Linked DNA regions of Homo sapiens. The gene in region 1 interacts genetically with each later gene. Each region holds a gene or a part of one and is shown on either strand. Other genes may lie near its edges. The genes, in order: SEC23IP, SLC39A9, CARM1, SEC24C, RAB5C, B3GNT2 and IGF2BP1.

Region 1 (3,500 bases):
ACTGATGTTAGTAGATTATCCTACATGTATATCTGGACAATTACTTAGTGTAATAACTAGACCCCAAAGCAATTTTAAGAAGAATTTTTAAACCTAACAAAACCCCAAATCAAGGATAAATGCTTGAGGTGAGGGATATCTATACCCCATTTATCCTGATGTGATGATTACACATTGCATGCCTGTATCAAAATATCTCATGTAACCCATAAACATATATACCTACTATGTACCCACAAAAATTAAAAATTAAAAAATTTAGAAAAAAATCAATTACAAGGTGAACCAGACCTTCTCACAGAACACAAAGTAAACTAACACCTTTACAGAAATCAATCTAGCAATACATCTCCCATGATTTATTTAACCTTTTTTGTGTGTGTGAGGCGGAGTTTGCTCTTCTTGCCCAGCCTGGAGTGCAACGGCGCAATGCACAGCCTCCGTCTCCCGAGTTCAAGCGATTCTCCTGCCTCAGCCTCCCAAGTAGCTGGGATTACAGGCATGCGCCACCACACTCAGCTAATTTTGTATTTTTAGTAGAGACAGGGTTTCTCCAGGTTGGTCAGGCTGGTTGCGAACTCCCAACCTCAAGTGACCAGCCCGCCTTGACCTCTCAAAGTGTTGGGATTACAGGTGTGAGCCACCACACCCGGCCTATTTAACCTTTAAAATGTGCCTACTCCTTGACCTACTCATTCCATTTCTAAAAATTTATCCTAAAGATAGAATTATAAAAACAAATAGCCCAGGTGCAGTGGCTCACACCTGTAATCCTGCCACTTTGGGAGGCTGAGGTGGGTGGATCACCTAAGGTCAGGAGTTCGAGACAAGCCGGGCCAACATGGTGAAACCCTGTCTCCACTAAAAATACAAAAATTAGCTGGGCGTGGTGGCACAGGCCTGCAATCCCAGCTACTTGGGAGGCTGAGGCAGGAGAATCGCTTGAACCCGGGAGGCGGAGGTTGCAGTGAGCTGAGACTGCACCACTGCACTCCAGCCTGAGTGACAGAGACTCTGTCTCAAACAATAAATAAAAAATAAAAATAAAAAGTTATCCCCAAGGATATACATCAAAAGGTTATTTAAAATAGGAAATTGGTGTGTACAACTGTCAAAACTCAGCTAATTGTACACTTTAAATAAATCGAATTGTATACTGTAAATGGATGCCTTTTACTGTATGTAAATTATACCTCAATAATGTTGATTATAAAATCATAGCTAATAAATTTGGAATGTTTGCAAAAAAATAAATAAAATAGGAAATCACTGGAAATAATCAAAATGTCTAACAGAAACCTGATTAAATAATATTTAACTCAAATGCTAGATCCTCCAGCGCCATTAAAAATGTCTTATATCCTTTCTGCAGGAGATAGCTAAAAAAAAAAATAAGTAAATAAACAAAAATAAAAGTTTTAGAGGATAGACACGATGGTTCACACCTATAATCCCAGAACTTTGGGAGGCCAAGGAAGGAGGATCATTTGAGGCCAGGAGTTTGAGCCCAACATGAGCAACACAGCAATACCGTTTCTACAAAAAAATCTAAAAATCACACGGACATGGTGGGGCACACTTGTAGTCCCAGCTACTCCTGAGGCTGAAGTGTAGTTCAAGGTTGCAGTGAGCTGTAATCACACCACTGCACTCCACCCTGGATGACAGAGCAAGACCCCCCCCCCACTCTTTAAAAAAAAAAAAAAGAAGAAGAAAAAGAAAAAAATTTTAATGTTTTAGAAAAAATCTTAGTAACATTTAAAGTATGTTCACACAAAAAAAAAATAGATTATAGAAACCATAGGTATTATATGTTTGCCAAAAAAAGACATATAACAAAATGAAAACAGTGGTTATCTATGGACATTTTTTATTAAATTGAGTATTCTGCATTTTTCAAATTTTCTACAAAAACGATTTTAAAATCAGACTAGACTTATTTTAAAATTTTTTAATTAGACACCATTTTGGGACAGGTGTGGTGGCTCACACCTGTAATCCCAGCACTTTGGTAGGCTGAGGCAGGAAGATCACTTGAGGCCCAGGAGTTTGAGACTGCAGGTGAGCTGTGATTGCGCCACTGCATTCCAACCTGGACAACAGAGTGAGACCCAGTCTCAAAAAAATATATAATTTAGCCCATAATCCCAGAACTTTGGGAGGTCAAGGCAGGAGGACTGCTTGAGCCCAGGAGTTTGTGACCAGCCTGGGCAACATAGTGAGACCTCATTTCTACAAAACATAAAAAAAAAATTAGCCAGGTATGGCAGCATGTGCCTGTGGTCCCAGCTACTGGTGAGGCTGAGGTAGGGGGATCACTTGAACCTGAGAATTCGAGGCTACAGTGAGCCGTTACCATGCCACTGCACTCTAGCCTGAGTGACAGAGCAAGACCTGGCCTCAAAAAAAAAAATTTTATATATATATATATACACACACACACACACATACACACACACGTACATATACATACACATATATAATTTCTAAAAAATCATTTTGAAGTATTACATCAACACTCAATTTCCTGAGATTCATAGCTGCACTGTGCACATAAGAAGAATGTCCTTATGCTTAGCAAATGTACACCAGGAATTTAGGAGTAAAGAATCATAATGTATTTTACTGACCTTCAAATATTCCCCCCAAAATTGCATATATACAGAAAGAGAAAAAAACGATGAGGGGAAGGGAGGGAAGAGGGAGGGGCAGGAGGAGAAGCAGGAGGAAGGGGCAGGAGAAAGGGATGGGGGAAGAGGGAGGGCTCACATATGCCAGGGTGTGCACATGCACAAATTAAAAAACAAACGGGATGAAATGTTAATGATAAGTAAACCTGAGTAAAGGATATTAGAGTGCTCTTTGTACTCTTTTTATTTTTGCAACTTTTCTTCAAGTTTGAAATTATCATTTTTTAAACTTTTATCTAAAAACCTTTTTAAAAATTTAAGCAACAAACTACAATTAGTTTGTTATAGTTAGCAAAAATACTAACTATATACCACATGCTATGAATCTGGTTACTTTTCAGAATGCCGAAATCCAACATTGTCAAAAATTTGTGTATTGGTATGATTTAAATGAAATGATAAAACAGAGTCCATTCTCTATCTCTAACAGAGAAGTTAGTTACATTCTGATCACAATACTGCTATCTCCACCACACTGAAATGGGTTCTTAATTCTTTTTAATCATTTCTCTTTTTGTTTAATTCTGTTGATTTTTCTTTGGAAATCAAATAAACAATTAGTTGGGAAAAATGCATAAGGGAATTTCATGAAATTTACCCAATGCATACGTTATTCCACCAACTCTCCCTAGATAGAGTTTGACTGATCTAGATCCAAACTCCATAAAGAAATTACTGAAGTAATCAATTTTAGTCCCTGTAATTGAGTGTTTTGATTGACTAGTGTAATTGAAAGATGAGAAACTAGCAGTCTGTTAAGACAATAACCGCTTCAATTCTCCTATGTCTCTAGACAACACTTATTTTTAC
Region 2 (3,500 bases), on another chromosome or scaffold:
TCATTTGTGGCTTTCTTAAATTGACGGTCAGATGGTCTTTTCCAGCTGTAGGTCTTAAAATGCTAAAATCAGCATTCATAATATCTGTTTATTATTAGAGTAGATGCAATGCATTTTGAGCTATTAGAATAAAAAATGAAAGTTATATATAACTTAAAGACATCCTAGAATTCAACTAGGATTTCTATCTCCTAGGAACTAAACATATTTTCTAGGTAAATTATGCCATTATTATGGACCAATGTTGTAATGAAACTAGTGAGATGGTAAATTTGTAAAAATAAATTTCATTCACGGGGGACTGGAAAGCACCATTTCTTTCCTTAGAAAATAATTCCCCAAACTCCTACACTGGATAAATGACTTGCCTTTTTAAGGAAGTCTGGCTTTCTTAGAGGCTAGTGTTACTGTTTTACAGTTCACTTTCGTTTACATCAGGGGTGTCCAATCTTTTGGCTTCCCTGGGCCACATCAGAAGAAGAATTATCTCAAGCCACACATAAAATACACTAACACTAAGATAGGTGATGAGCTAAAAAAAAAAAATGCAAAAAAAAACTCATAATGTTTTAAGAAAGTTTATGAATTTGTGTAAGGCTTCATTCAAAGTGCTCCTGGGTTGCATGCGGCCCACGAGCCATGAGTTGGACAAGCTTGATTTACATGAAAAGATATGCTTTTTATTCATGTTTTTAATCTTGCTGCTGCTTTCTCATTCAATACTTTTTCTAAAAATATCTCAGAACAGGAATAAAAGTCAGATGATCAATTATGGCAAGATTAGTATTTAAAAACGAGTTAAAATTAGGTAGTCTGAAATTGCAGTAGTGGTGGGGTCTACCTGCCAGATGTGCCCACCAAGAGGTTTATGTGACATTGATTTCTCTGTCAGTTTCTCCTCACCCCAAAACTACCTTTCTTGATACTTTTGTGGCCTTCTTCCTTGCCCTTTGACCTGGCAACTGTACTTTCATGCCTTAAAAATTTATAAAACAAAGGAAAAAAAATCCGATTCTCAAATGCAATTATAAGTAACTATGATAATCAGGATGTAAATTTTTTCAGTATACAGGAAAGAGAAACACTTTTAACTTTTAAAGGAGGCCAGCCAGGTGCTAAGTGGCTCACGCCTGTAATCCCAGCACTTTGGGAGGCTGAGGTGGGCGGATTACCTGAGGTCAGGAGTTCGAGACCAGCCTGGCCAACATGGCGAAACCCCATCTCTACTAAAAATACAAAAATTAGCTGGGCGTGGTGGCATGTGCCTGTAATCCCAGCTACTCAGGAGGCTGAGACAGGAGAATTGCTTGAACCCAGGAGGCGGAGGTTGCAGTGAGCCGAGTCCCACCATTGCACTCCAGCCTGGGGAACAAGAGCAAAACTTTGTCTCAGAAAAAAATAAAAATAAATAAATAAAAATAAATAAATAAAGGAGGCCAAAGCATGCTTTACACAAAGGAAGCCCTGTTTGGTAAGGGAGTGAGACCCGTTGGTTTATAGTTAACACTGTCTTATGTTTTTTCGATTGAATTGCTAATGAGTAGTTTTCTTTGGCTCTAAATAACAATGTTACATAAGTAGGTTGAGAGCCTATATTACCTAGTATAAACTCAGTGCTGCTGCAGTTGATAAATGGAGCTATGATACAAAAACAGATGGCTCAAGTGGGATTTCAGATTGATTATCTGAGGGTTGTTACTCACCTGAGTATGTCTCCTCTTTGTCACAGAGCTGGTAACAGAGAGCAAGCTGTTTTTGGCTCAGAGCTCTACAGCAATATTCCTCAAACTGCCTGGTAAAGGATCAGTTTTTGTTTTTAATTTTTATTTCAATCCATACCAATACACTTATAAAAATGAAATAGTAGGAAAATGAAGTGAAAAAAAGACATAGAAAATACAAGCCCAAATGTATTGTTAAATTCAACAGATAAAAAATTACTACTATAATTGTAATAATCATATTGCTCTAAAAATTTCTGAAGGCTTTATCTCAGTTGCCATACTTTTCTTATTGCAGACCAGTTTGAGTTATAATGCCACATTTTTCATGTATTAAAACAGCAAAGCAGGCCAGGCGTGGTGGCTCACGCCTGTAATCCCAGCACTTTGGGAGGCCGAGGCAGGCGAATCATCTGAGGTCGGGAGTTCGAGACCACCCTGACCAACACGGAGAAACCCTGTGTCTACTGAAAATACAAAATTATTTGGGCGTGGTGGCACGTGCCTGTAATCCCAGCTACTTGGGGGGCTGAGGCAGGAGAATCGCTTGAACCTGGGAGGCGGAGGTTGCAGTGAACCAACATTGCGCCATTGCACTCCAGCCTGGGCAGCAAGAGCAAAACTCCCTCTCAAAAAAACAAAAAACAAACAAACAAAAACAGCAAAACTGGATGTAGTGGCACACACTGGTTAGTCCCAGCTACTCCAAATGCTGATGTGGGAGGATCACTTGAGCCCAGGAGTTCAGGGTTGCAGTGAGCTATGAGTGTGCCTGTGAATAGCCACTGGCAACATAAGGAGACCTACTCCCTAAAATAACCAACAGCATAAATCCATAAGTTGGCAGATGAAAGTAGTGCTATTCTTAGGATGATTTTAAAGATGAATATGATTAATAATGCACTGATTTCAAAAGGGACTGTCTGAGACAGTATCATTCAAAGTCAATGTTACTACTTGAACAAGCTATTAAAATCCAAATCTCTTCTGTTAAATGACCTTCTAGGATTGTTGTGAGGTTGAAATAATATAAGCACAGGCTTAACACTATGTCTAGAACATAATAAAAACTTTCAAAAATATTGAGGCAGATTCTCAATACTGATTAGAAAAACTTGTAAAGATTTTCATTTTTATAACTTTGTTCTAATTTATAATTGTTAAACCTTTTATTTGGAAACAGACTTAATAATGGGAAGCTCCTCCCCCTCCTCCCCTTCGCAGTCATGGAAACTTCTCGGCAATTTGTTTGGAATCCAAAGGTCTTGTTGTGGGGTTTGGTTTGCATTACTATTTACCATTCTATTTGGAGAGGCCAGGGCTTTTCCTCTACCCTCCCTGCTTTATACTATTTTTCTTAGTATTTAACTCTCTTTTCTTCATTATACTTACTCTCATTTTAAGCTTTGTTTTGTTCTTTCGTGTTTTAAAGTTTTGTGTCTGTATTAGTCCATTCTTACACTGCTAATAAAGACATTTCTGAGACTGGGTAATTTATAAACGAAAGAGGTTTGATTGACTCACAATTCAGCATAGCTGGGGAGGCCTAAGGAAACTTACAATCATGGCAGAAGAGGAGGCAAACACATCCTTCTTCATGGGGCGGCAGGATGGAGAAGTGCTGAGCAAAAGGGGGAAAGCCCCTTATAAAACCATCAGATCTCGTGAGAACTCACTGTCACAAGAACAGCAAGAACTCACTATCACAAGAACAGCATGACCTCCCACCAGGTCCCTCGCATGGGAACTACAACTCAAGATGAGATTTGGGTGGGGACA
Region 3 (3,500 bases), on another chromosome or scaffold:
CCCATCTTGCCCTCCCAAAGTGCTGGGATTACAGGCGTGAGCCACTGTGCCCAGACTTTTTTTTTTTTTTTTTGAGACATGCTCTTATTCTTGTCACCCAGGCTAGAGTGCAGCGTTGCCATCTCTGCTCACTGCAGTGTCAACTTCCTGGGCTCAGGTGATTCTCCCACCTCAGCCTCCCAAGTAATTGGGACTACAGGCGCATGCCACTACACCGACTAATATTTTTATATTTTTAGTAGAGACGGGATTTCACCATGTTGCCCAGGCTGGTCTCAAACTCCTGGGTTCTAGTAATCTGCCTGACTCCCAAAGTACTGGGATTACAGGTGTCAGCCACCATGCCTGACCCTAAAATAGTTTTTTATATATTCTGGACACTAAATACTTAACAATAGATGATTTGCAAATAGTTCTCCTAAGAGTTTTCTTGTTTTAGCTCTTATATTTAGGTCATTGCTCCATTTGAGTTCTGTTTTGTTTGTATATGGTGTGAGGTAGGGGTTTAACTTCATTCTTTTCTCTGTGGTTATCCAGTTTTCTCAACAGTGTTTGTTGAAGACACTATTCTTTCCCCATTGAATGTTCTTGGCATCCTTATCAAAAATCAATTGAGGATAAGTATAAGGGTTTATTTCTGGACTCTGATTCTGTTCCATTGATCTGTGTCTCCTTTCTTTTGCCAGTACCACTACACTGTTTTCATTACTGTACCTTCGTAGTAAAATTTGAAATTGAGACATGGGAATCCTCCAACTTCATTCTTTTTCAAGACTGTTTTGGCTATTCAGGGTGATTGAGAACACTTTGCCATATTTGCACTCATGTTGTTGTTGTTATGATGGGCTATTCAAAAGCAAGCTACTGACATCATGGGAATTTGCCATAAATACTTCCGCATATGTTTTCTAAGAAAATATGCATTTCTCTACAAAACCACAATACCATTGTCACATCCAAATAACTTAAAATTATGGAATATGTAGTCCACACTCACATTTCCCTAGTTGTCTTTTTTTTTTTTTTTAATAGGATCTCACGTCTGTTGCCTAGACTAGAGTGCAGTGGCACCATCATACCTCACTACAGCCTCAACCTCCTGGGCTCAAGCGATCCTCCCACCTCAGCCTCCCAAGTAGCTAGGACCACAGGTGTGAGCCACTCTGTCCAGCTCCCCAGTTGTCCTTTATTTATTTTTTTGAGACAAGGTCTTGCTCTGTCACCCAGGCTGGAATGCAGTGGCACAGTCATGACTCACTGTAGCCTCAGCCTCCTGAGTCCCTAAGACAACAGGCGCATGCCACCATGCCTGCCTAATTTTTAAATTTTTTTGTAGAGATGGGGTCTTGCTATGCTGCCCAGGCTGATCTCCAGCTCCTGGGTTCAAGTGATCCTCCTGCCTTGGCCTCCCAAAGTGCTGGGATTAGAGGTGTGGGCCCAGCCTCCCCAGTTGTCCTGTATAACTTTTAAAAACATTTTTCGTTTGGCTCCAGCCCAGGGTCCCACTTTGCATTGCATTGGGCACTCCCCTCTTTCTTGTCTCCTGCACTCTGGAATAGCTCCCACCGTTTTGGTCTTTCCTGACATTGGCCTGTTCAAGGAGACCAGGCTGGTTGTCCTGTAGCCTGCCCCACAACTTGTCCTTTTCTGTTGTCCCTTGAAGATGAGACTAGGGCAAACATTTTTGCCAAGAATACTACAGATGATGCACCTGTCCCACTGCAGTATGGCAGGCAGGGGCACAGTGCCTGATTGGGCTGGCCCGTTCCTGGCATCGCTAAGTTTCACCATTTGGCTGGAGTGGAGTGGCTGCAGGTTTGTGGAATGAATGACTGGTAACAGCTATCATGATGGGTACAGGGAGACAGTGTCCTAATTCACTAGACCACTGCCCCGCCATTAGCCCCATCTGATGGTGAGAACCCCAGTTCCAGAGAGGCTGAGGGACATGCCTGTGTCACAGTGAACAAATGGCATGGATGGGGTGTGAACCCAGCGGTCTGACTCCACTGGCCACATGCAGTCACTGCTCTGCGCCCATCCAAGAACAGAAGGGCTCAGCCGAGCAGGGCAGAGGCAGCTCCAGCTCTGAGTTCCTGTGGGCCAGCACCATGCCTTGTGGCCCTGTCTGCCCACCTCAGCCTTCACCATGCCCGTCTCAGCCCTGATCATCCTGAGGACACAGGCTGTGTTCCTGCTGTCTGATCAGTCGCTCCCTTGTCTTCCATGTGGGCTGGGCAGTCAGGGCACCCGGCAATGCTGCCAGGGTGGTTTTGTGGCACTCTGGAAGAATCTGGGGGCACCAAGGGGAGGCAGCAGGAGGGCGACAGGGACCCAGGCTCAAAAGAAGGCAGCTGACAGGGCTGCACCGCTCACGCCAGCCTGTCTTCTCTCGTAGATGAAGATGTGTGTGTCTTTAAGTGCTCAGTGTCCCGAGAGACAGAGTGCAGCCGTGTGGGCAAGCAGTCCTTCATCATCACCCTGGGCTGCAACAGCGTCCTCATCCAGTTCGCCACACCCAACGGTACGTGGCCCTCCTTCCATTCCGGTGACACCAGCCCAAAGCGCCCAGAGCCCTGGTGGGCAGGGGCGTAGAGCCTGGCTGAGGGGTGGCCCGTGCATCCTTAAGAAGGCTCCACTGCCCTCAAAACCACATTCCCACATGCAGGTATGCCCAGAATACACTCTGGCCTGGGCAGACCCTGGATCCCAGACCCTCCCTCACCGGCTCCTCCGGGTCTTTTGGGGCTTGGCTTCTATGTCCCCACCTCCAAGAGGCCCATCCTGACCACCTGGGACCAGTCTTTCTGGCAGTGGCCAGCCCTGGGCCAGCTGTGACTGGGCCAGCTGTGGATGGAGTGAGGCGAGGTCCTAGAGGCAGGAAGAGTTTGCTCAGGGCGCAGAGAAGCCACCAGAAGGGCTTAACCAACCCACCTTGGGGGCACAGGTGGACACAAGATTCCTGACTAGGGGTGGGAGAACCCCAGGTGGATGCAGCCAGGGTAGCAGAGAGGTGTCCAGGAATGCCCAGGGCTGGAGATGGTCTGAAGGTCCCACCGCAGGCTTGGTTACCAGAGACCTGAAGTGAGTCCAGTGGTTGACACAGGTGCTGGTGCGAGGACAGCTGGAGGTGGAGAGGCTGCGTGCCCATGAGCCACTGCCGGCCTCCCCCTTGTCTCAAGGTAGCTGTGCAGTGACCCAGATGTACCTTGGGCAGCCTGAGCCCTCGGGGCCAGCTGTGTGAAGCTGCCATGCCTGGCTAATTTTTTGTAGAGATGGGTTTTCACTGTGTTGCCCAGGCTGGTCTTGAACTCCTGGCCTCAAGTGAGCCACCTGCCTCAGCCTCCCAAAGTGCTGGGATTACAGATGTGAGCCACCGTGCCCGGCCCCTTTTTTTTTTTTTTTTTTTTTTTTGAGAAAGAGTGTCACTCTGTTGCCCAGGCTGGAGTTCAGTGGTGCTATCTTAGCTCACTGCAACCTCCACCTCCCGGGTTCAAGGC
Region 4 (3,500 bases), about 46 Mb from region 1:
GCCACTGCACTCCATCCTGGGCGACAGAGTGAGACTTCGTCTCAGGAAAAAAAAAGTATATGGGAGGTTATATGCAAATATGATGCCGTATAACCCACATCCAATTCTATTGATTCCACCTTCAAGATGTATCCCAAATCTCACTACAGTCATTCCTCAGTATCCATGGGGGAATGGTTCCAGGACCTCCCCTGACCAACAGATACCAAAATCCACAAAGGCTCAAGTCCCTCATATAAACTCTATTCAAGTAGAGATGTTAGGTAGGCAGGTGCATATACAAATCTGCAGCTCAAGACTGATGCTAGGACTGGAGATAAAAATTTGGGAGTCCTCAGTCTATAGATATTTAAAGCCGTGGGACTAGATGAAATCATTTAAAAAGTGAGTATTGAGATTAAAGAATGGAATTGAGGACTGAGACTTGGAGCTTAGCAACATTTAAAAGTAAAGAGGAGCCGCCATTAAAAGACAATGAGGGGCCAGGTGCAGTGCCTCACTCCTGTAATCCCAGCACTTTGGGAGGCTGAGGCAGGCAGATTGCTTGAGCTCAGGAGTTCGAGACAAGCCTGGGCAACATGGTGAAACCCTGTCTCTACCAAAATACTAAAATTAGCCGGGTGTGGTGGCACATGCCTGTGGTCCCAGCTTCTTGGGAGGCTGAGGTGGGAGGATGGCTTGAAACCAAGAGGCGGAGGTTGCAGTGAGCCGAAATCGCACCGCTGCACTCCAACCTGAATGACAGAGTAAGACCCCATCTCAAACAAACAAAAAAAAAACAAAAGACAATGAGAAAGAGCAGTAGTGAGGTGGGAGATAAGCCGGGAGAGTGTGGTGTCCTGAAGTCAGGTGAAGAGAGTATTTCAAGAAGGTGAGAGAGTAATCAGTTGTGTCAGATGCTGCCAAATTGTAAGATGAAGATGGAGAATTGACCATTGAATTTGGCAAGGTTGGCGTCATTGGTAAAGGCAGTTTCAGTGTAGAGATAAAGAAAACTACCCAGTTGGAGTGAGTCAGAGTTTCAGGCCAGGCGCGGTGGCTCATGCCTGTAATTCCAGCACTTTGGGAGGCCGAGGCGGGTGGATTACAAGGTCAGGAGATCGAGACCATCCTGGCTAACACGGTGAAACCCCGTCTCTACTAAAAATACAAAAAATTAGCTGGGCGCGGTGGCAGGCTCCTATAGTCACAGCTACTTGGGGGGCTGAGGCAGGAGAATGGCGTGAACCCAGGAGGCAGAGCTTGCAGTGAGCCGAGATCTTGCCACTGCACTCCAGCCTGGGCGACAGACAGCGAGACTCCGTCTCAGGAAAAAAAAAAAGTTTCAACCGGGTGGTAGATTGACATAATCTGAAAACCCTCTGCTACCAAAGTCTAGAAAGGAGAGAGAAAATAGAAACAAAAAAAATTTTTAAGTGCAAAGTTAAGCTTGAAAGAAAATGTGAAATTCTTAAGTTTTAGAGACCAAGTGAGGACTGAAAATCTTTTTTTTTTTTTAAATACAGAGTCTTGCTCTGTCGCCCAGGCTGGAGTGCAGTGGCACGATCTCTGCTCACTGCAACCTCTACCTCCCAGGTTCAAGCGATTCCCCTGCCTCAGCCTCCCAAGTAGCTGGGACTACAGATGTGGGCCACCATGCCCGGCTAATTTTTGTATTTTTAGTAGAGATGAGGTTTCACCGTGTTGGCCAGGCTGGTCTCAAACTCCTCGCCTCAGGTGAACCGCCCACCTTGGCCTCCCAAAGTGGTGGGATTACAGGCATGGGCCACTGTGCCTGGCCATCAAGTGAGGACTGAAAATCAGAGTGGTAAATTGACTCTGGAGCTGCCTGTAGATTGGGTGGATTCATCATCTTGAGAAGCCAGGGCCTTAAATTTAAGCAGGTACTGGGGAAGGCAGATGAGTCCTTGGGCTTTCCTGAGAGTAGTTTTGGAACTGAGACATTGTTTATAAAGTCTGGACCTGGGCTGCACCTTCATTGAACAAGCTGACTAGGGGAAAAAAGTCTGCACGCTGGAAAGGGGAGATAAGGAGTGCTGTTTCTCTCAGGCTGGCTGTGGATGGGTGAAAAAAAAAGTTCTTGGGACTGCAAATGGACATGACATCTTTTTGGAATGATGAAAATGTTTTAAAATTTGATTCTGGTGATGGTTGCATAACTAAATTTACTAAAAATCATTGAATTGTTCACTTGAAGTGAATTTAATGGTATGGAAATTACATCTCAGTAATATTTTTTTTTTTTTGAGACAGAGTTTTGGTCTTATTGCCCAGGTTGGAGTGCAATAGCACGATCTCAGCTCACTGCAGCCTCTGCCTCCTGGGTTCAAGTGATTCTCCTGCCTCAGCCTCCCAAGTAGCTGGGATTCCAGGCATGACCACCATGCCAGGCTAATTTTTTGTATTTTTAGTAGAGACAGGGTTTCACCATGTTGGCCAGGCTGGTCTTGAACTGACCTCAAGTGATTCACCTGTGTTGGCCTCCCAAAGTTCTGGGATTACAGGTGTGAGTCACTGTTCCTGGCCAATTTTTTTTTTTTTTTTTTTTTTTTTTTTTGAGATGAAGTCTCGCTCTGTCACCCAGGCTGGAGTGAAGTGGTGTGACCTTGGCTCACTGCAACCTCCACCTCCCAGGTTCAAGTGAATCTCCTGTCTGAACCTCTTGAGTAGCTGGGATTACAGGTGTGCACTACCACGCCTGGGCTAATTTTTGTATTTTTTTAGTAGAGATGGAGTTTCACCATGTTGGTCAGGCTGGTCTTGAACTCCTGACCTCAAATGATCCATCTGTCTCGGCCTCCCAAAGTACTGGGATTACAGGCATGAGCCACTGCACCTGGCCTAATTTTTTTTTTTTTTAAATTAGAGGCCAGGTGCAGTGGCTCATGCCTGTAGTAATCTCAACACCTTGGGAGGCTGAGACAGGAGGATCACTTGAGGCCAGAAGTTTTAGACCAGCCTGGGCAACATAGGGAGATCCTGTCGCTATAAAAAAAAAAAAATAGCTGAGCATTGTTGGTGTGCCTGGGAAGCAGAGGTGGAGGCAGGAGGATTGCTAGAGCCCTGGAGGTTGAGGCTACAGTGAGCCATGATGGCTTCGCTGCACTGTGGCCTGGGTGCCAGAGTGAGACCCTGTCTCAAAAACTAAAAAAAAAAAAAAATCAATCTAGGGTGACACTGTCATTATTGGAGTACCTTCTGGAAACAAATGTAGAACAACCACACCTCAGTCCGGGCTGGAAGGGATTATCGGAGAAAGGCACTTTGATTAGAGTTGGGCCAGGCACAGTGCTCATGTTTGTAATCCCAGCACTTTGTGAAGCCGGGGTAGGAGTTCAAGACTATCCTGGGCAGCATAGCAAGACCCTGTCTCTACAAAAAATAAAAAAAATTAGCTAGGTGTGGTGGTGTGTGCCTGTGGTCTCAGATACTTGGGAGGGGAGGCTTAGGGGGAGGATTGCTTGAGCCCAGGAGGTCAAGGCTGCAGTGAGCCACAGATA
Region 5 (3,500 bases), on another chromosome or scaffold:
TTAAAGGAGAGGGCAGACATTCAAACCTGCCCTTAAAGCAAACACCAAACACCTGCCCACTTCTTTTTTTTTTTTTTTTTTTTTTTGAGATGGAGTCTTGACCTCTCACCCAGGCTGGAGTGCAATGGTACGATCTTGCTCACTGTAACCTCCGCCTCCTGGGTTCAAGTGATTCTCCTGCTTCAGCCTCCCTAGTACCTGGGATTACAGGTGTGTACCACCACGCCCATCTAGTTTTGTATTTTTAGTAGAGACGGATTTCACCATGTTGGCCAGGCTGATCTCAAACTCCTGACCTCATGATCTGCCTGCCTCAGCCTCCCAGTGCTGGGACTACAGGCATGAGCCACTGTGCCCAGCCTTGCCCACTTCTTTTTTTTTGTTTGTTTTTGAGACAGAGTTTTGCTCTTGTTGCCCAGGCTAGAGTGCAATGGCACAATCTCAGCTCACCACAACCTCCGCCTCCCGAGTTAAAGAGATTCTCCTGCCTCAGCTTCCCAAGTAGCAGGGATTACAGGCATGTGCCACCACGGCCGGCTAATTTTTTGTATTTTTATTAGAGATGGGGTTTCTCCATGTTGGTCAGGCTGGTCTCGAACTCCCAACCTCAGGTGATCCACCCGCCTCGGCCTCCCAAAGTGCTGGGATTACAGGTGTAAGCCACCATGCCTGGCCCTCGCCCACTTCTTTTAACACACACTTCCCTTCCTTTCTTCACACACTTTGGATGTCGTGAACCTATGATTCAAACTTAAATCCATCTGATCCCACAGCTTGAGCCATATCTTTGGTCCATCCCCCAGAAAGTTGCTCACAGACAAATGGGAGAGCAAACAGGTCAATAGGATCAATGTTACAGTACGGATGATGGGAAGCAAGTCACAAACTCAGTTTCCAGAAGTTAAGACTCTCCAAATCTCCATTTCTGGTGAAGGGTTTAATGGGACAATGAGGGCGCGGCCCTGACTAGCCACAGTCCGGCTGACTGGCTTCTGCCGTGTGTGTATCTGATGGCAGGACAGAACGACCGTGCTTCTGCAGTTGTGTGTGGTGAGGCAGCACCGACCCCAGACCAGTACTTAGCAAGGATCAGTGGAAGCAAATTTGACTCTGCCTGTGGATACTGTTCTGTATGTCTGCACAAGGCTCGTTCCTGAGTGAAGGTGGCTTAAAAAAGTGGTGGCAGCAGCTGTTCAGACCAGTGGTATGAGCAGCCCTCACATGTGTATTCCACAGATGGGGTCTTTAACATTCCCTGGTCCTGTGCCTGCAGTACTTGGATATCCTCTGCTCACCTTGAGGCTGGTCTTTCTTTCTTTCTCTCTCTCTCTCTCTCTCTCTCTCTTTCTTTCTTTCTTTCTTTCTGTTTCTTTCTTTCTTTCTGTCTTTCCTTCTTTCTTTCTTTCTTTCTTTCTTTTTCTTTCTTTCTTTCTTTTTCTGTCTTTCTTTCTGTCTTTCTGTCTTTCTTTCTGTCTTTCTTTCTTTCTTTCTTGACGAAGTCTTGCCTTGTCGCCCAGGCTGGAGTGCAGTGGTACGATCTCGGCTCACTGCAAGCTCCCGGGTTCATGCCATTCTCCTGCCTCAGCCTCTCGAGTAGCTGGGACTACAGGCTCCTGCCACCACGCTTGGCTAATTTTTTGTACTTTTAGTAGAGGCAGAGTTTCACCATGTTAACCAGGATGGTCTCCATCTCCTGACCTCGTGATCCGCCTACCTTGGCCTCCTTTTTTTTTTTTCTTTTGAAATGGAGTCTTGCTCTGTTTCCCAGGCTGGAGTGCAGTGATGCCATCTTGGCTCACTGCAACCTCCGTCTCCTGGGTTCAAGTGATTCTCCTGCCTCAGCCTCCCGAGTAGCTGGGACTACAGGCGTACGCCACCATGCCCAGCTAATTTTTATATTTTTAGTAGAGACGGGGTTTCGCCATGTTGGCCAGGATGGTCTTGATCTCTTGACTTTGTGGTCTGCCTGCCTTGGCCTCTGAAAGTGCTGGGATTACAGGTGTGAGCCACTGTGCCTGGGCAATTTTTGATTTTTTTGTAGAGACGGGGTCTCCCTATGTTGCCGAGGCTTAATAAACTTATTCTTTCAGAATACTTTTAGAAAAGTTACGCAGATAGTACAGAGTTTTCTCACAATCCCTCACACATAGTTTTCCCTGTTATTAACATCTTATGTTAGTACGTATTTTACATTAAAGTCCATCCTTTATTCAGATTTCCTTAGATTTTTACCTGATGTCCTTTTGCTGTTCCAGGATCCCATGTTACCTATATTCATTGTCTCTTTAGGCTCCTCTTGCTGTGCCAGTTTCTCAGACTTTTATTGTTTTTGATGACCTTGACAGTTTTGAGGAGTGCTGGGCAAGCATCTAAAGAGGATCTCGGCCAGGCGCGGTGACTCACGCCTGTAATCCCAGCACTTTGGGAGGCCGAGGTGGGTGGATCACTTGAAGTCAGGAGTTCGAGACCAGCCTGGCTAACATGGTGAAGCCTCATCTCTATTAAAAATACAAAAATTAGCCAGGCATGGTGGTACGCACCTGTAATCTCAGCTACTCAGGAGGCTGAGGCACAAGAATCGCTTGAACCAGGAGGCAGAGGTTGCAGTGAGCCAACATCGTGTCACTGTGCTCCAGCCTGGGCTGGAGACAGAATGAGACTCCGTCTCAAAAAAAATAATAAAAAATAAAGAGAATCTCTTCTCAACTGGGATTTGTCCAGTATTTTTCTCTTTTTAACAGAGTCTTGCTCTGTCAGCCAGGCTGGAGTGCAGTGGTGCAATCTCGGCTCAAGCCATTCTCCTCAGCCTCCCAAGTAGCTGGGACTACAGAAATGCACCACCACGCCTGGCTAATTTTTGTAGAGACAAGGTTTCACCATGATGTCCAGGCTGGTCTCAAACTCCTGAGCTCAAGCGATCTGCTCACCTCAGCTTCCCAAAGTGGTGGGATTACATGCGTGAGCTAACACGCCTGGCTGTGTCCAGTGTTTTTTTCATAAGTAGACTGTGCCAAGTTTTGGGAAGGAGGACCAGAGAGGTAAAGTGCTATTTTCATCACATCATGTCAAGGGTACATACAATCCACAAGCCTTTCCATGACTGATGTCAACCATGATCACTTGGCTGAGGTGATGTGTGTGAGGCTTCTCTGTAAAGTTGTTCTCCCCTTCCCCTTTCCATGCTGCATGCACCCTTTGGAAGAAAGTCACTGTGTAGCCCACACCTAAGGAACAGGGACTTATGTTCATGTTCCCCTTGTTGAGGGCGGAGTAGCTACATGAGTTACTAAATTATTTTTTCTTTTTCTGTTTTTTTTGAGATGGAGTCTCACTCCATCGCCCAGGCTGGAGTGCAGTGGCGCAATCTCGGCTCACTGCAAGCTCCGCCTCCCGGGTTCACGCCTTTCTCCTGCCTCAGTCTCCCGAGTAGCTGGGACTACAGGCCTATAGGCGCGCGCCACCACACCCGGCTAATTTTTTTGTATTTTTTTTAGTAGAGA
Region 6 (3,500 bases), on another chromosome or scaffold:
GTCTTTAGTAGAGACAGGGTTTCACTGTGTTGGCCAGGCTGGTCTCGAACTCCTGACCTGGTGATCCACCCGCCTAGGCCTCCCAAAGTGCTGGGATTACAGACGTAAGCCACCGCGCCTGGCCTTAGCTTTAAATGTTTTCTAGCAATGCTAGGGTTTCATGAAAATCCTAATTTAGGGATGCTGATCCACAGCTGTTAATACTCTTGACATACTGGGTCAGTGCTTTTCATTCTTTCTGACTTGGTTAATGGATGTAGTATTTGACTGTATTTTTCTGTATTTTTTTGATGGTTTTATTGGAAAGTCTGTTAGAGACTTTAAAAATTAATAACTGCCTATGGTTACTTTTATAAACATTGAGACCTTGAGATCTTGCAACTAGGATAATACTTGGTGATGTGTAATCTATTGCAACATCCCTGATGGTGGTACATACATCACCAATACTGAAAGATTCTCATAAAGGCCTTTTGGTCTCTTATGTAAGTGCCCAGGGGAAACTAAAGTCATTTGGTTGCTTGGTATTTTTGGTGTGTACAGAAGGTTAAAACATGAATTAAACTAGACTCTGAAGTGGTAAATGTTTCCTGGCTGCATCCAGTAAAGAAAACAGCACAAACACCCAAAAGGTGTGGACCCAGCTGTCTTTTTCTCCACTCTCTAAGGTGGGATTGCTGTTCCTACGTACTTGCCAAATATGTCTGCAAATTACAGAATGAATACATTCCTCTCTCTGGAGAGGCAATTACTGTTTGAATAAGAGGTGTATGTATGTGTGGGGTAAGGTTTTGGGAGAATTGATGTAATGATTTCATCATCACTCACTGGTAAGGAGACTTTGCCAGGCTGGAACCTGTTACTTGATGGAGAATTTATTATTAGGGCTTATGTGGCACAATTACTTTGCTGCTGGAAAAAGTTATTTGTACTGAGTTTTCTATTTGTTACAAATTTTAAGAGTTGAGATTTTTGCCCTCTGTGTGTTGCCCTGTGAGTATTAACAACCTCTGCCCACCAGCTTTGTCTTTTTGCCTTGTCTTAATTTTTGTAACAAAAATTCAGATGTCTTTTGAGAGTCATAACATGTATCTTGTGCAATTTTAGCTTTAGGTATTTTCATATATAACTTTAAGAATGTTACACATTATTTTCTGTGCATCTATAACTTAAAAAAAACAAAAACCATTTTCTGATGTGGCTACAGAGGGGGAAATTCCCAGTAGCCAGGAAATTGATACTTTCTACTTTTCATTCTGTGGCATTTTAAAACAGAGGGTTCAGGTGTCTTCATTCTGATATGAGTAGGATGTACGTAGCTTACCAGAATGTTTGAAAAAAATGATAATCCAAGGTAATCAATTCTGGCATGTGGCTAGATTCTGTCCGAGTGCCATGTGGTGGTTTAGTGGTTAAGAGCATAAACTTGGAGTCCATAAGATGAGGATTTTTTTAACTTCATGTATAACATGCAGTAAAGTGTGAGAAGTGTTAATATTAAGCATGAGCTCATGTATGTAAGCTCTCAGATTAAGAAATAAACATTTTCAGTACTGCAGAAGGTTCCTGCGCCCATGTCTTGTCCGTGTTCCCACCCCCTCACCCTGAAGGAACTGTTATTCTTTCTTACATCATCATAGATGTGACTTCTGTCATCATAGATGGGTTTTACCTGTTGAACTTCATGTAAGTGGAATCAGTCATACAGTGTGGCATGTAGTCTTTTGTGAAATAGGCTTGAATTCTATTTTTACCACTTATTGTGTGACTACGGACAAGTTATTTAATCTGAGTCTCAGTTACGTATGGGAATGCCTAAAGTTAAAATTACACGAACTATTTCAGGATAAATTTTCTCACTTGTAAAATGGGGAAGATAAAGCCCTATGTTAGATTTACTGGGGAAAGTAATATAAAGCTACACCTAGAATACCTAGCACTGTGCCTGACTGCAGTTTCCTCTTCCCCTTTTTATTTCTTTAACAGGGTGATAACTAAAGCAACTAGATCTTTTGTGTTTAAATGAGCTATTTCATTAAAAGTTCTGTAGGTCTTTTATTGAAAATTAGAAGACAAATCTTTATTTAATACTTTGTTGATATAGCTTTAGCTTTAAGATGTATTATTTGTTAGTTGCCTGTTTTTGACATTTCCTCTCTAAAGACAGTCATTGAAATGTCCCATTCAGAGTTGTTTGGCCACCTGTGTAACATGAGCTAGGATGCAGTGATGAGAACTGGTTTATGGTCAATTATGGAGCTTGTGGAAGAGTTTAGTTTGGGTAAGAGTCATCAATAAGTGCCCAAGATGCTCACAACATCTGCTTTATGTTTAGTGAAATAATTATTTCAGAGGTGAAAGCACAGGACCAATTATTTTAATTGCTTGCTTCAGACAAGCCACTTAAAACATTTTCAGCTCTTGTAATCTTACCGTGTAAGCGGTATTACATAATTCCATGGCCTCATGTCTCCTTATTTGTTTGGTACTTTTCATTTTTGGACTCATTCTGCAAATGTAACTTGGGTAGTACTTGGCATTCTTTCTAAATGACTTTCATTAAATGTTTATTTAGAAAAAGTATTCAAGATAAAGTAAAGGAAAATAAAACTAATTCCACCCTCTCTCACCACTATAACTACATTAACTTGATGTGGGTCCTTCTAAGTGCTCATTTCTTCTTTTGTACACTTCTAGAATGACCTTAGGAAAAACATACTTCCAATACTTTATGGAAATTTAAAACAAAATATGGGCCTGCTTAGAGATGTCTAGCAGAGAAGGCAAGAGTCTTCGTAGGCCTAAGTTCAAATCTGTCCACACTGTGGTCCCTACTTGTACCTTTGTTAGTGCTGAGCAGACAGTCCCCAGAGACTCCATCAGAGGGTCCCCTGGTCTCCAGATTACAGTAGCCAACACGGAAAACCTGCCCTGGAATACTTCTCCATTAAGACCTCAAGATGTTTGGTGAAGTGAGCAGTTTGTTCTCCGACCAAACACGCATTGATTGAGCACTTGGTGTGTGCCTAGCACTGTGCTTGGCTGTGCGTGATTGCTGCCTTCAGTGGGCAGTGTGGTGGAGACAGCCAGGAACTGGTAAGATTGCCTTGGTAGAGGTGTAAGCCAATTATGTGTTGGAGGCAGCCAAGAAAGGCTTCTTAAGGAAGTGGCCTTTGGGCTTGGTCTTGAAGGATGTGAATAACATTTCAGAGGCAGAGAAAGGAAGGTAGAAGTGCTCAAGGGATTGTAGGCTGAGAAAACAGGACACAACAGAAAGGCTCATAGAGGTCTTTTGGGGAAACAGCAGGTGATCCATTGGGTTTGGAGTGCATGGTGCTTAGAAAGGTGTAATAGGCCATGATGCAATCTCGGGGATCATGCAGAGATGTGGCAGTTAATAGTTATGGAGGTAGTGAGGAACCAGTGAAAGTTCTTGTGGTCAGGGGAGAGAGAGAGAGGGTGTGGGTGCTGACAAGTTATGGCCAGGCTTGCATTGAGGA
Region 7 (3,500 bases), on another chromosome or scaffold:
ATCCTAAAGAGATGGTCCTTTCTTAAAAATATATATGTAGCACACACACACACATATATATCTTAGAGCACAGAAGCATTTTTTTTAAGTCACTCTTCTCAAATCATCCAAATCTCCCAAGTGCTTTTCGCGATAGCTTGTTATCTCACCAAGGATGGGGAAATGGAGGTGCTGAGCAGGAGGGCAAGGAGTTGCCCTAAGACCTAGCCTACGGGGCACAAGAGGGCCCGGCCCACCAAGACAGGTCCTTCATCCCACTAAACCTTAACCACCAAACCATGCTCCTTTTGCTTTCTGGTGGTATAACTTACATGATTTTCCTGCTGGGCAAATATCAACAATGAGTGGAGCCTTGCCTAATCCAAGCAAGTGAAGTTTTCCAGTCCCTTGCCACACACTTCCTCGTCTCTTCTGGGAGCTGAATCAGCCAACGGAAAAGGACTTGGGCTCAAGGTGTGAAGGGAGCAGGCCCCCAAGGAAACTGAACACTGCAACAATCACATTTCAGGTACTGTGGGATTTTTTTTTCTTCCTGATGATAGTCTGAACCAGATATCAAAGCATGCTTGCTGCTGGAAATTCGCTTTAAATTACTAAATGGCCGACGTCTGAACGTTATCTGCTTTGTTTTGGGATAAAGCATATAGAGCCAGAGATGGAAAGCTGGGAGACCCTTTTTATGGTTGGGACAGGTGGAGAGGCTTAATTCTACTGGCCTGATGTTATCCCTAAATGTTTTTCTGCTTCTATTCAATTTGGGCCAGACAATTCTGGGGGCTACAAGGGAATGTCCTAGGGAGAAAATGATAAGGCAGGAACCTGTCCCAGTCACGTCCCCATATCCCCTGCCCCTCCTTGCCACCAGCCACCCTAAATCAAGAATTCCCTAAGTTTGGGTCCACTTTTAAAATCAATCAGACCGATCTAAAGAAGACAGGGAGACAGAGGTGGGGGCAGTTAACTAGTATCTGTTTGCCCCTTAGATCTATGGATATAGATTAGGAAGAATAGCAAGACGGAACTGAAATGAAACAATAACAAAAAAAAAAAATGAAAAGCATTGCAATGACAAACCAGGTGGACCTCTCTGAGGGCGAGAGGGTGGCCTTGTCTTTTTTCCACGAACGGAATCTCAGCTCCCATATTTTTAGACAGAGAAATATAGGTTTTTTTAAAGGGTATATTTTTTAGTTATTATTTCTCTCCTCGATAAAACGGAGGCAATATTTTAAAATATCTCAACAGCACCACTGGTGGGAAAAGCTGGCTGAGATGCTCTTTAACCAAAGGAGGAAAGAGAGGAGACCAAGGGCCAGCTGGTTGGTTGTTGGGCATTGTTTAACCACTGAGAGCCCCCAGCTCCACTAGGCCTTTTAATCCTATCAGGTAGGATATTCCAGCAGCCGCCAGCAGCTGGGGCTCTAGAAGTCAGAGATCAGGGCCAAACAAGGCTCTGGGCTCTGCCCCTCTGGGCTCTCTCAAACCTGGGCCTTCCCTCTTAGCACTAGCCTCCTCCTAAGGGGGCAGCCCCCAAAGCCTTTCCCACCAGGCCTGTTCTCCATAGAGAGTTCCTAAAGGGTTACTGGCTCATGTTGTAAGAAATTATGAAACATAACTTTCTTGTTTTTTCTTTTCATTAAAAAAATAAAATATTCAAGACTATCAGCTTCTCTTTTGCTTTGCTTTTCTTTTTTATATAAAATATCAGCAAGCTGCAAAAAAACAAAAATCAAAAAAAAATTTTTTTAATGGGGTTGGGGGGAACAAAAAGGAAAATAATTGCTGAGGTAACTTCATACCTTGAGGTAGTTTACTTCGCACACAGCATTGCCTGACTACGCCCACATGTTGCGGTTGTCTTGTTGTTACTGTTGTTGCAATGTTGAAAGGAGGGGAACTCCACGCATGGGCTTTTCCATATGTAGAGAGGCCTTCCTCCCTTCCCAGCACACTTGATAGCATTGTCCAGGGTAGCTAAAGTGCATTACCTGGCTAATATGCATTGTCAATCAGTATATTAGGAGGAGAGGCCTAACCTCATTTAACTGATGGCTTCTGTCTCCCACAAGGGCTAAACACTCCATGGGATCTTAATTAAGCCTGGTAAATTAATAAATTAAGCTTATTTACCCCTTGCTGTACAATGCTGCTGGTATTCTGAATTGTTTTTTAGACACACCTTTCATCATGCTGATAATGATTCATGGAGACAGAAGCCGTCAGTTAAAAATTCCTCTCAGATACAAACAGAAGCAAGTACTCTCCAATTTACTGAATTTGCCAGATGATGGACTTTAGCTTTATCGGGAGCTCAGGGTTGGGTTCCAAGTCCCACCACCAAGGTAACAGTGCCGTGGCTGGGAGTGCCCCACAACCCCTGCCTCTAGGAACCAGCCCTTATGGGAGCACATGGGCTGGGGTGAGGGCACCGTGGCAGCCTTTGGGGCCACTCAAGTCCTCCATGGAACCGAGACTTTATCAAGGGGAGTTAGCGTCCCCTTCCCAGTGCTCATATCCAATCATTAAAATAGACTTTAAAAAAATATAAAATCCGCCTGAGAACGATGGGAATCAGGGACAGTGGTCAGCCCCTACCCTGCTGAGCATTCAATACCACCTATGTGCACCTGGACATAATGTGAAACCTACACGGGAGAGGGACATGAATGTGGTGGGGAAGCCCCAACAGAGTGGGGAAATTTCAGTTGTGCCAATTTGAAGATGGTGATCTGGCATAGATCAGCCACAAGTGCGCTCCTTTTAAACGTGGATTATTATGTATTTTAACCATCTTTCTCCCCATTTTCCCCTCTTCTTCATTCCGTATTGTACCTATTGGTTAGGGAGTGATTGGAATTAATCTACAGATACTGACAGTTCTTTTCCCTTGAGTCAATACTGTAAGCAAAGCAATGCATTCGTTCGCATTTTTTTCTGGTAGCAATAAAGATAAAAAAATTAGTGTAAATATAGAAAGAGGCCGTAAATGGAGGTATTTTAATCAATTACCCAAGTAGGGGGAAGAAGATTGGAAAAACATTAAGGTCAAGAAATGAACCATCCTTTAAGGCTGATTAAAACACCTCTCTGCATGTTTTTAAAACCTGAAGGAAATTTTATTTTTCTTCCCACTGAGGTGTGATCCACCCTCTTGGTGGGGCCTGGAGAGCTTCTTTAAACAATCCACGTTTAAAAGTGCCTTGCGCTAGAATTTCTGACACCCCGAGGGGCAGACAGTGTTGGGCCAATTGGGTGGGTGTTTGGGGCTGAGAGATCAGGGTTCCTCACTGGAACATCTTTCTCAATCAAGTGGGCAAACCTGATCTACAGCCCGGCCCAGGTGTCCCGGATTCCCACTCATTCTCAGGCCTGCCGGGGAGAGCACACTCTCGATTTCTGCCCGTTGTTGTCCTGGACTCGAAGGGACAGGGAGGGGCTGGTCACTTCCTCCGTGCCTGGGCCTGGTTACTCTGTCCCTTCTGATGCTGCTGCTTAACCTG

Evidence for each region.
Region 2: changes in SEC23IP (region 1) and SLC39A9 together harm fitness more than expected from each alone (negative genetic interaction), as found in Homo sapiens cells (one large-scale study listed by BioGRID).
Region 3: changes in SEC23IP (region 1) and CARM1 together harm fitness more than expected from each alone (negative genetic interaction), as found in Homo sapiens cells (one large-scale study listed by BioGRID).
Region 4: changes in SEC23IP (region 1) and SEC24C together harm fitness less than expected from each alone (positive genetic interaction), as found in Homo sapiens cells (one large-scale study listed by BioGRID).
Region 5: changes in SEC23IP (region 1) and RAB5C together harm fitness more than expected from each alone (negative genetic interaction), as found in Homo sapiens cells (one large-scale study listed by BioGRID).
Region 6: changes in SEC23IP (region 1) and B3GNT2 together harm fitness more than expected from each alone (negative genetic interaction), as found in Homo sapiens cells (one large-scale study listed by BioGRID).
Region 7: changes in SEC23IP (region 1) and IGF2BP1 together harm fitness more than expected from each alone (negative genetic interaction), as found in Homo sapiens cells (one large-scale study listed by BioGRID).

The regions. Positions count from the first base shown.
Region 1 is NC_000010.11:119,899,230-119,902,729, reverse strand, and holds part of SEC23IP (SEC23-interacting protein), read right to left. Parts: intron 1-3,500. UniProt on the Homo sapiens protein: Plays a role in the organization of endoplasmic reticulum exit sites. Specifically binds to phosphatidylinositol 3-phosphate (PI(3)P), phosphatidylinositol 4-phosphate (PI(4)P) and phosphatidylinositol 5-phosphate (PI(5)P).
Region 2 is NC_000014.9:69,401,692-69,405,191, forward strand, and holds part of SLC39A9 (zinc transporter ZIP9), read left to right. Parts: intron 1-3,500. UniProt on the Homo sapiens protein: Transports zinc ions across cell and organelle membranes into the cytoplasm and regulates intracellular zinc homeostasis. Participates in the zinc ions efflux out of the secretory compartments.
Region 3 is NC_000019.10:10,902,553-10,906,052, forward strand, and holds part of CARM1 (histone-arginine methyltransferase CARM1), read left to right. Parts: intron 1-2,398; coding exon 2,399-2,524; intron 2,525-3,500. UniProt on the Homo sapiens protein: Methylates (mono- and asymmetric dimethylation) the guanidino nitrogens of arginyl residues in several proteins involved in DNA packaging, transcription regulation, pre-mRNA splicing, and mRNA stability.
Region 4 is NC_000010.11:73,754,372-73,757,871, forward strand, and holds part of SEC24C (protein transport protein Sec24C), read left to right. Parts: intron 1-3,500. UniProt on the Homo sapiens protein: Component of the coat protein complex II (COPII) which promotes the formation of transport vesicles from the endoplasmic reticulum (ER).
Region 5 is NC_000017.11:42,144,990-42,148,489, reverse strand, and holds part of RAB5C (ras-related protein Rab-5C), read left to right. Parts: intron 1-3,500. UniProt on the Homo sapiens protein: The small GTPases Rab are key regulators of intracellular membrane trafficking, from the formation of transport vesicles to their fusion with membranes.
Region 6 is NC_000002.12:62,199,115-62,202,614, forward strand, and holds part of B3GNT2 (N-acetyllactosaminide beta-1,3-N-acetylglucosaminyltransferase 2), read left to right. Parts: intron 1-3,500. UniProt on the Homo sapiens protein: Beta-1,3-N-acetylglucosaminyltransferase involved in the synthesis of poly-N-acetyllactosamine. Catalyzes the initiation and elongation of poly-N-acetyllactosamine chains. Shows a marked preference for Gal(beta1-4)Glc(NAc)-based acceptors.
Region 7 is NC_000017.11:49,049,385-49,052,884, reverse strand, and holds part of IGF2BP1 (insulin-like growth factor 2 mRNA-binding protein 1), read right to left. Parts: coding exon 3,441-3,500; 3' UTR 1-3,440. UniProt on the Homo sapiens protein: RNA-binding factor that recruits target transcripts to cytoplasmic protein-RNA complexes (mRNPs). This transcript 'caging' into mRNPs allows mRNA transport and transient storage.